2 separate regions of the Homo sapiens genome follow, and region 2 is linked to region 1. The links come from fine-mapping of genetic effects on gene expression. Tissue or cell type: whole blood. Region 1 holds a variant in brackets; the other region holds the start of a gene. All regions are shown on one strand. Distances are from middle to middle.

The links. PIP is the estimated chance that this variant, and not a neighbour inherited with it, causes the effect.
Region 2: it holds the start of PRKCZ-AS1, and the variant in region 1 is fine-mapped to the expression of PRKCZ-AS1 in whole blood (TOPMed, PIP 0.93).

Annotation. Positions count from the first base shown.
Region 1 is chr1:2,114,888-2,120,027 of GRCh38, reverse strand. All of the region lies in intron 4 of PRKCZ (protein kinase C zeta), which reads right to left. Among named protein-coding and RNA genes, the nearest start is that of PRKCZ-AS1, 66 kb to the left of the region's middle. The variant G/A (reference allele first, on the strand shown) is at 2,590.
Region 2 is chr1:2,181,766-2,186,905 of GRCh38, reverse strand. PRKCZ-AS1 (PRKCZ antisense RNA 1) reads left to right here and starts at 3,031. Exons shown (of 2, transcript NR_146290.1): 1 at 3,031-3,335; 2 at 4,165-5,112. It overlaps PRKCZ (protein kinase C zeta), which reads right to left. Exons shown (of 18, transcript NM_002744.6): 17 at 2,208-2,323; 18 at 1,511-1,984. The coding sequence ends at 1,897. It also overlaps a transcript of FAAP20 not described here.

The DNA.
Region 1 (5,140 bases):
TGCCTAGAACTCCACACAGAGTGGAGAACACCCTCCAGAAAGAATGCCAAAGACATTTCCCACACAAACAAAAAACAACTGGGCGTGGTGGCGCACACCTGCAATCCTAGCTCCTCAGGAGGCTGAGCCAGGAGAATCGCTTGAACCTGGGAGGTGGAGGCTGCAGTGAGCCAAAATCACACCACTGCACTCCAGCCTGGGCAACAAGAGCAAAAATCCATCTCAAAAAAAAAAAAAAGAAAAGAAAAGAAATAAAAAGAATTAATTACAAGTCTGTGCTGAAAGGAATACTAAAGGGACTACTTCAGGCAGAAGGAAGCTGGTCTCCATGTAAGCGCCGTCCTGCAGGAAGACTAGAAGGGTAACCTGGGGGTAAATCTGAAGGACCACTGTCTAAGACAACACTTGGTTTGTGGGTCTGAAATACACGTAGAATTTACAGGCATGATAATAACAGCACAAAGACTGATAAAATAATAGCACAAACTAACAATAAGGAAAGAAGAATAATTAGGCCAGGCACAGTGGCTCATGCCTGTAAACCCAGCACTTTGGGAGGCCAAGGCAGACAGATCACTTGAGGCCAGGAATTCGATACCAGCCTGGTCAATATGGTGAAACCCTGCCTCTACTAAAAATACAAAAAATAGTTGGGCATGGTGGTGGGCACCTGTAATCCCAGCTACTCAGGAGGCTGAGGCAGCAGAATCACTTGAACCCAGGAGGTGGAGGTTGCAGTGAGCCAAAATCGCGCCCTTGCACTCTAGCCTGGGCAACAAGAGTGACACTCCATCTCAAAAAAAAAAAAAAAAAAGGAAAAAATAAGAATTAAACTGTTATAAGGTTTTGAAGAAAATGGTAAAAGTAGTTTATGCTACGTTCCAAGGATGTGACTCATAATTTCTAAGGTAGCCATTAAAATAACATTAAGAGAAGTATTACTTAACAAAGCTATAATAATAAAGGGAGGAAAGTGGAATAAAAACATCTGATTAAACCAAAAGAAGGCAAGAAAGAGGGACAAAACAAAGAACAGACCGGACAAATAAGGACCCATAGCAAGATGACAAAGCTACAATGTAACACATCAGAATGACATTAAATGTAAACGGACTAAATCTTTCATTTAAAACACAGCCATTTTCAGACTGGATTAAAAATAACTAACTTCTGCTTTTAAGAGTCATTTCCAAAATATACAGAAAAGAAAGTGAAAGGATGAAAAAATAGAGCATATAAACACTAAGTCCCCTTCCCTCCCTCCCCTCATCTCACACACACACACACACACACACACACACACACACACACACAGAGCTGGTGTGGTCACACTAACATCATACAGATCAGATGTTAATGACAATAATATTTTCATCTAAAGAGCAACATTTGGCCGGGCACAGTGGCTCACGCCTGTAATCCCAGCACTTTGGGAGGCCGAAGCAGGCGGATCAGGAGGTCAGGAGATCGAGACCATCCTGGCTAACACGGTGAAACCTCGTCTCTACTAAAAATATAAAAAATTAGCTAGGCGCGGTGGCAGGCACCTGTAGTCCCAGCTACTCAGGAGGCTGAGGCAGGAGAATGGCGTGAACCCAGGAGGCAGAGCTTGCAGTGAGTGGAGATGGTGCCACTGCACTCCAGCCTGGGGGACAGAGCGACACTCTGTCTCAAAAAAAAAAAAACAAAAACATTTCATGATGATAAAAGCATCAATCAAAAGGAAGATATGGCCAGGCATGGTGGCTCACACCTGTAATCCCAGCACTTTGGGAGGCCAAGGCGGGCGGATCACCTAAGGTCAGGGGTTCAAGACCAGCTTGGCCAACATGGTGAAACCCTGTCTCTACTAAAAATACAAAAATTAACCAGGCGTGGTGGCACACACCTGTAATCCCAACTACTCAGGAGGCTCAGGCAGGAGAATCGCTTGAACCAGGGAGGCGGAGGTTGCAGTGCGCCCAGATCGGGCCACTGAACTCCACTCCAGCCTGGGTGACAGAGTGAGACTCCAAAAAAAAAAAAAAAAGAAATAATAGGCTAATCTCTCTCATAAATACAGTTGCAAAAACAACAAACAAAATAATAGCAAACTGAATCAAGCAAAATATAAAAAGGCGAACTCATCACAACCAAACGAGGCACACTACAGGAATGCCATCGGTCTACCATTAAGAGCCAATCCATAGAATTCATCGTATGAACAGAATAAAGGAGAAAAGTTCTGTCACATCAATAGATGAAGGAAAAAAAGCATCTGAAAAAATTCAGCACCATTCATATTAACAACTTTCAACTAGGAATAAAATAGAACCTCTTTAATTTGTTGGTGGGGATTTACGAAGGAAAAACAGTATTTCCGCAAACAGCACCCTTAATGGTGGAATTCTTAAAGCTTTTCCCTGAAATCAGGCACGAGAGGATGTGGCTGTCACCACTTCTGTCCCATACTGTTTTGGAAGGATCAACAGTGCCAGGGTAACAAGGCAACATCTGAAGGAAAGGCAGAAACAAACAGCCGGTCACTGACAAAATGGCAGCGCACAGAGAGGTTCCGGAGCAACCACAGACAAACTACGGGGACCAGGA[G/A]AGGCCAAGACAAATGAGTTAATCACACTTCTTTACACATTGCTATAAACAAAAAGATAAAAAAAAAAAAACTGTAAAAGTAATACGGCTTAAAACAGCATAAGCACTGAAATACCAGGGAATCATTTGAACAAAAAATGTGGATGACCGCTACACACAAGACTACAAAATATTATTGAAAGAATTTAAGGCCGGGTGCAGTGGCTTGCATCTGTAATCCCAGCACCTTAGGAGGCTGAGGCAGAAGGACCACTTGAGCCCAGGAGTTCAAGACCAGCCTGGGCAACATAGGGAGACCCTGTCTCTACAAAAAAATGCCAAAATAGCTGGGCATGGTGGTGCACACCTGTAGTCCCAGCTACTTGGGAGGCTGAGGTGGGAGGATTGCTTGAGCCCAGGAGGTCAAGGCTGCAGTGAGCCATGATCATGCCACTGCACTCCAGCCTGGGCAAGAGTGAGGTCCTGTCTGCCCCCCGCAACTCCCCTGCCAAAAAAACCCCAATCAAAGGCCTAAAGATATGTTCACGGATTGGAAACCTCAGTATTGTAAAGATGCTAATCTCCCATACTGATCAAGAAATCCAAATGCAATCCAAATGTCTTATGGAGATTTTGAAAGCAAATAAGCCAACTGTAAATGGCTTATTAACAAGCCCATGTGTATGGAAATGTAAAAAGCCAATAACCAAGATAACCTTGAAAACTAAAAACCCCAAATTGGAGACTCATAACACAAGTTACCAATGGTGATTATAAAGCAGAAGAAATCAGAACAGTACGACATGGGGGCAAAAAACAAAGGGGACAGATCAGTCCAGAAAGAGGCCCCACACACAGCCAGGACGCAAAAGCCCTAATTATAAAGTAAGCTTTTACTTTCTGTTCATCAGAAGACACCATCCATGGAGTGGAAGGCGAGCCGCGGAGTGACAGAAGCTGTTTGCAACACAAAAAATCAAAGCACTTGTCTCTAAAACACACACAGCCCCCAGGAACCAACAAAAAAGACGGACCCCCCAATGACATTGTTCTTTGACAGCCCAATTTTGAAATGGGGCAAAAGACTGGAACAGGCACCTTTAAAAGGAGGGTCCCCAATAACCCGGGAGCCTCGGAGAAGCAGCTCACCTCAGCCGTCGCGAGGCCACAGCCTAGTGCCTTTCAGATCTGCTGTGCTGGCGACAACGCAGGGCTCTGACAGTCCATGTGCTGGAAGGAGGTGCATCGGGAATTCCCACACGACCCAGAGTGACTGTGCCATCAACACAGATTCAGCCTTTGTCTCAGTTTCCCAGCGCGCAGCCCCTCTGACCCTAGGAATCCTGGAGTGCGGTAAGAGTGTCTTTTTGCATGCTAATGAGATGACGGGGAGCCGGGAGCCGGGACAGCTCCAGGATGCGGCTGGTCTTCAGCAGGACCAAGGAATGCCTAGCGGGTTGGAACTTTCCGTCCCACAGCCCACGGTCCAGAGAGGAGACAGGAGAGACTGAGGTAATCAGCAGTGGCTGGCTGTTGAATCAACCGTGCCTGTCACGAAGCCTCCACAAAAAGCCCTCAATGACATGGTCTGGAGAGTGTCCGAGTTGGTGAATATACCAAGGTGCTGGAGGGTGGCGTGCCTGGAGAGGGCACGGAAGCTCTGCACCCCCCATACCTCAGCCTCCCGTGCAGCTCCTCCGTGTGGCTGTCCTTTCTAATAAACGGGTACACTAAGCAAAGTGTTTTCCTGAGTTCCGGGAGCTATTCTAGCCCACCCGAGCCTCAGGAAGGGGTCACGGACACCCCCGATTCACAGCCAGTTGGTCAGAATCCAGGTTGTCACCTGGCACTTGCAGCTGGCTCTCAAGTAGGGGCAGGCTTGTGGGAATGAGCCCTTCATCTGCAGGGTCTGCGCTAACGTCAGGTAATTGATGTCAGAGCTGAATGGAAACACAGGACACCCAGCTGGCGCCAGAGTGGCTGTGGGTGCAGAAAACCCCACATAACTGGAGGCAGAAACACAGTGCAGAGTGCGACCTGGTGCGGCCACGCGAGGGAAACGTCTGTTTCCCGGAAACTCCACTCCTGGGTGTGCCCACATGAAAGATGCGCCACGGGCAACAGAAGGCGCTCGGATGTCTGTGGCCAAAAGCCGGGACCCCGGTGCCTCGCAAGATGAGGGTGGATACATAAGACGTGGAGAATTCAGCCAGCAGAGCAGCCCCGCAGTGGGGACGGACACGGCAGAACCGCACCCCACACCACGGGAAAGCCCCACACAGGGGCCCGACTGAGCGGCCACACCCAGGGTGGATGGCCCCGGATCCCAAGACAAAAGCTCGAAACAAGCAAAACTATCTGCAGGCACCAAGGCCGGGGACGGGTAGGTTACGCCTGGGGTCACCTCGGGGTGTGGGGGTGGCCCCGCGTCCAGAGGACAAGCTACACACGGATCAGCTATGTGACGCGGTGCAGTTTGCTTTGTAAAAACTCGTGGAGTTGAACGCTTCAGATTTCATGTTTTAGGGAGTTTTGTTTCAATTTTAAAAAGTCAAGAAAGAAAAAGAAATCA
Region 2 (5,140 bases), 67 kb before region 1:
TCACATATTGTGTACAAGAACGGCCAAACTGGTAACCGGCACGCTACTGGCAACACGGCAGTATTTAGGTAAGTGCCTTCAATATTTAACAAATCAAGGAGGCTCATGGAAAGCAGTTTGCTTGTTAACCACTTCTGGGATACACTGGGGGTCTCCCACTCAAGGTGGGGTCCCGGCAGCCCTACTCACCCGGCAGGTGTAACTTCAGCGGCCGCAGGCTGGGCCTGGCCACCTGGGCATCCCCACGCTGGTCTGGGACACCTGTGTGAGACCCAGGTCGGCTCCTGGACTCTGCCCTGGGGTTTCTAACTTTCCGTCTTTGGAGTTGAGTCTCAACAGCTAAGGTTGGGAGTGTGGCTGAAACCCGTCTCCACATTCCACCTAGAAGCCTGAGCTGGCCGGGGGGGGGCGGGTGTCCAGGGTCTCGGGCCGGGGGGAATGGGCCGGCAGTATGCCCAGCGCTGGCATTCTTGTCCTGGCACCTGGGGCTTGGGTGTGAATCCACCATGTCGTGCTGAGCGCCAGGCACGGAGTGGCACCCTGAGAAACCTGAGTGTGTAGGGTGGGCCACGCTCACCTGCTGGGGATGACCTTGAGGCAAGGCAAGGCGCGGCACAGACCTCCTAACTTGGGGTTTTACGTCTCTCTTCCCCAAGCCACCAGCCGCACAATGGGGTGGAGCGGCCCCTGAGTCATGGAGGCCTGGGGTCTCTGCGCCTGGCCAAGAGGGCTGCGTGGCAATTTCCACACCTGTGCACCAGGCCTCACTCAGAGGCATGAGGTGGCGCGACCCCCTCTCCCAGGGAGCTCAGAAGACGGCTCTGCCACACCTGACACCTGGCAGCTGGCAGCCCTGCCTCTAGGAAGCCTCAGCTCTGGACAGCTGTGCCTTCACCTGAGGGGTGGGTGGACGGAGAGCGCGGGTGTGTTCCCGGGAGCAGGAGGTCCGCGCCGCTGGGAAGAGTGCCTGTGTTTCTGGGTGTTTGTAGGGTCATCACGTTCAACTTTAAGGCTGGGGTCCGTCACATGCACATCTTTTAGTTTTCCCTAACTCTCAGTGCTGTGTGACAGATAAGAATATCTTCCAAAAATCAAATGCGTCGCACGAGGCATCGTGCAGGCACTGCTTAGTGTGGTCAGAAATGATTTGTGCAGATTTAGTGTTCAGTTTTTTCTCTTTTTTGGTCTACTGTGCTTTGGTGGGCCACGTTTTAGAATCTCTATGATCCAATTTCCCCCATCGGTCCAGTGAGCTGGCTGGCCCAGCTGCCATCTGCTTAAGGTGTCACTTCACCCTAGACCACAGCGGCTGGGACACACTCTGCAGGAAGAACAACAGGAACTTACCGGGGTTTTTAGGAAACAATTCTTGATTGCGGTGTGTCCCCACAGGTACTTCAACTCCCGCCCCCACCTGTGTCCCGCTGGCTCCTAAGCTGCCCCCCTACGTGTGGGTTGCGTCTGAGATGTGGGGCAGGCGCCACTCACGGAAAAAAGGCATCAGAGGAGCTTCCACATCATCGGAACATTTTATTCCTCAGGACGCTACACGCTCACTTTCCTGGCGGAGCAGGTCAGTGCATCGAGTTCTGTTTCCGTGGAAAATGTGCACCTTGGAAACCGCATGACAGCCCCCTCGGCAGGGTCCCCGCGGATCCGCCGCGACGCAGGCACAGCAGCAAGTTCCTCCAGCACGAAGCTGGCCTGCCCGGGCCCAGGTGTGAGGGACTGTTCTGCTCCCAGCAGCGCCCGCTGACGCTTCCCTCTGCGGTCTCGGCGCAAGCGTCTGTCCCTGGCCGCCCTCGGAGCCGTGCCCAGCCTGGCATGCATATGCGGTGGTTAAGGATACAGTTAAAGGGTCAATCACGCGTGTCCACGACAGAGACGCACGCGGCCTCACACCGACTCCTCGGTGGACAGCAATAATGGGTTGATATACTCAAAGCCTTCGAACTCTGACTGGTCGATCCTCTTTATGGCATCCCTGTGGGCAAAGGTGGCAGGGGGGAGGGGGGTGACCGTGTGTTCATTCCCTTGGGGGAAGCGGAGTCACGTTCGCATAAGAATCCTCCCCCAACGCCCACTGGAGAGATGACACCAGGCGGGTGGGACTCAAGGGCAGGCTGGGTCACCAGCTGCCCAAGGTGCCGGCCTGCCATGGGGCTGCCCGAGGGGTGCTCCAGGGACCCGCACCCAGTGGGACTCACTCATCGTCTGGGGTCAGCTGCACGGGCTCGCTGGTGAACTGTGTGTCAAAGTTGTCCAGACCGTAGTCGTCTGTGATCTGTGGCTGGAATGGAGGGAGCGCCTGCTTCTTCTCCAGCTTGGAAAAACAATAGGAGAAGGGTCAGCTCCGCGCGGGCATCATCCCTACCAGATTGAGTGTTTTGCACGCACTTCAATCACAAAATGAAACAGTGAGAAAGTCAGCATTTCAATCTGCCTAGTATTTGACTGCCAAGTGTTTTTTCTTACAACACAAAATCTAGAAAATATCCAAAGTCAGAAAAATTGTTGTCGAGCTGAGAAATGCCAGTGTCGGCCATGCTGGCCACATGTGGGACGGAGCAGGATCCCCAGCCACCCATGCGAGGCCACCCCCTTCCTTGGGGGGGTCCTTGTTCAGAGGGGCACCGACAACTAACTGGCTGAACAAGCCGTCTCATGACGTCTTGGAACCCTGACCATAAAGGTGTAGGACCTGGCCACAGCACCCTGCCTGCGCTGGCACTGCACAGACCCGTCTGTCAGGAGCCTCCTGCCGGCCCATTTCTGCCTATCCAGGCATCGACTTCAGAATCTCAGGTGCTGCTTGGCAGGAAAATGCCCAGCAGGCGGGCCTGGGACTCGGTGATGCGCCTGTGCCGGGGAGGGCAGAACGCTGGTGCCTGGCACAGGTGCCACAACACATACGGGTGAGGACACTGAAAACCCCTCAGTTCCCCCGACTCATGGCCACTTGTCCCAGTGACACAGCCATGCTCTCCCACTCACCCACAATAGGGTCTGAATGTGCCCCCCAGATTCACAGTGAGAAACTCATTCCCCAGAGCAACAGTGTAGAGAGGTGGAACCTGATGGGAGCCCCGCCCTCACAGACAAACTCCTGTAGCTGTCAAGACAGCTTGGGCATGGATTCCTCTCTGCCTTCTGCCATGTGGACACGTGGCCTTCCTCCCCTCTCTCCTCCGGGGAATGCAGTGTTTGGGCGCCATCTTGGAAGCAGAGATCAGGCCTCACCAGACACCAAGCCTGCTGGCACCATGACCCTGGACTCCCAACCTCCACAGCTGGGAAAGAACTCTGCTCCCTAGAAATTACCCAGGCTCGCTCAGGTATTCTGTTACAGCAGCACCAAGAGACATTCACTCGCTTACTCCCTCACTCTCTAACCCACTCCCATTCACCCTCTCACTCCCTCTCTAACCCACTCCCATTCACCCTCTCACTCCCTCGCTAACCCACTCCCATTCACTCATTCACTCACTCACTCTCTAGCCCACTTTTTTTTTGAGATGGAGTCTTGCTCTGTTGCCCAGGCTGGAGTGCAGTGGCGCGATCTCGGCTCACTGCAACCTCTGACTCCGATTCAAGCTATTCTCCTGCCTCAGTCTCCTGAGTAGCCGGGACTACAGGCATGCACCACCATGCCCAGCTAATTTTGTTTTTTGTTTTTGTTTTGAGACTCGCTCTGTCTCCCAGGCTGAAGTGCAGTGGCACGATCTCGGCTCACTGCAAGCTCCACCTCCCAGGTTCACACCATTCTCCCGCCTCAGCCTTCTGAGTAGCTGGGAGTACAGGCGCCCGCCACCACGCCTGGCTAATTTTGTTTTTGTATTTTTAGTAGAGGCAGGGTTTCACCATGTTGACCAGGCTGCTCCCGAACTGCTGACCTCAGATCATCTGCCCTCCTCGGCCTCCCAAAGTGCTGGGATTACAGGCGTGAGCCACCGCGCCCGGCCCTCTTTAGCCCACTCATTCACTCACTCCCTCGCTCTCTAACCCACTCCTGCTCACTCACTCATTCACTGGCTCACTCACTCTCTAACCCACTCTCTCTCATTCCCTTGCTCGTTCTCTAGCCCACCCTCGCACACTCATTCACTGGCCCGCCCCTTAGGTGTGTGCTCCTGTACCAACACTGAAATCCAGCTGTCACAACAGGCACCCACTGACTCCAGCCTCATGGAACCACCATTCACCAGGCTTGAGGGGAGGATGTCACGGCGCGCTGCTCCCTTCGGTGCCAGCCAGGATGGGGCCGGGTGGGTGCAGCTGGTGAAAAGAAATGCAGCCCCCCAGCCCCTGCAGACCAAGCCGAACAGCCCAGCTCGCGGGTGGATCACAGGGCACCCAGCAGCCGCCTTCCCTCCGGAAGAGCCAAGAAGGCTTCCAAGACCAGAAATGCCCCCAGTGTGGCTGTGCCTGTCCCCGGTGCCCCGCCAGCTGGGGGGCAGCATACCCAAACAGATGCACCCTGCCCATGATGGCACCCCAGGGACCCCCATCCTCAGGACCCTCCAGTCGTTCAAGCTGGAATTGGCAGGTTTCTGCCTGTATAGGCATCGGCTTCAGAGTCTCAGGTGCTGCTTGGCAGGAAAATGCAGGGCAGGAGGGGCTGGGCCTCAGCTCGAGGCTCCCAGGTGCAGCCCCCCACTCCACTGCAGGGCCCAGGGGGGCCAAGAACAGCCACAACAACAACAAAAGCCAAACTGGGAACGGAATCGTGGAAAAAACCCTCATAGGCTTTTGGGAACTTACAAAGAAATGCCCACATCCATTCTACTAACATGGCATCTACTAACGTGGCATCTACTAGGATGCCACAAAACAGACAAATCCTTCCACGTAAGGCTGGACACGTGTCAGGGCGGTGTCTCAAAGCTGGGCCACAGGCAGCATCCACGGCCAGGCCACTGGGTGGAGGAGACGGTGCTGGGGAGGAGCCGGAGGGAGGGGCCGGGGCTGTTCCCTTAGGCAGAACGGCTCACCTGTGGTGTGCGCACAGCAGGATTGTGGGGACACAAGATGCCCCCTTCATTCATCAGTTACTTGTATTCTTTGTATGAAACACCTGCCGATAAAATGTGAAAAAGGGGCATTTCCTAAAGTACTTTCCCTACCTTAGTCCTGTGCTGCT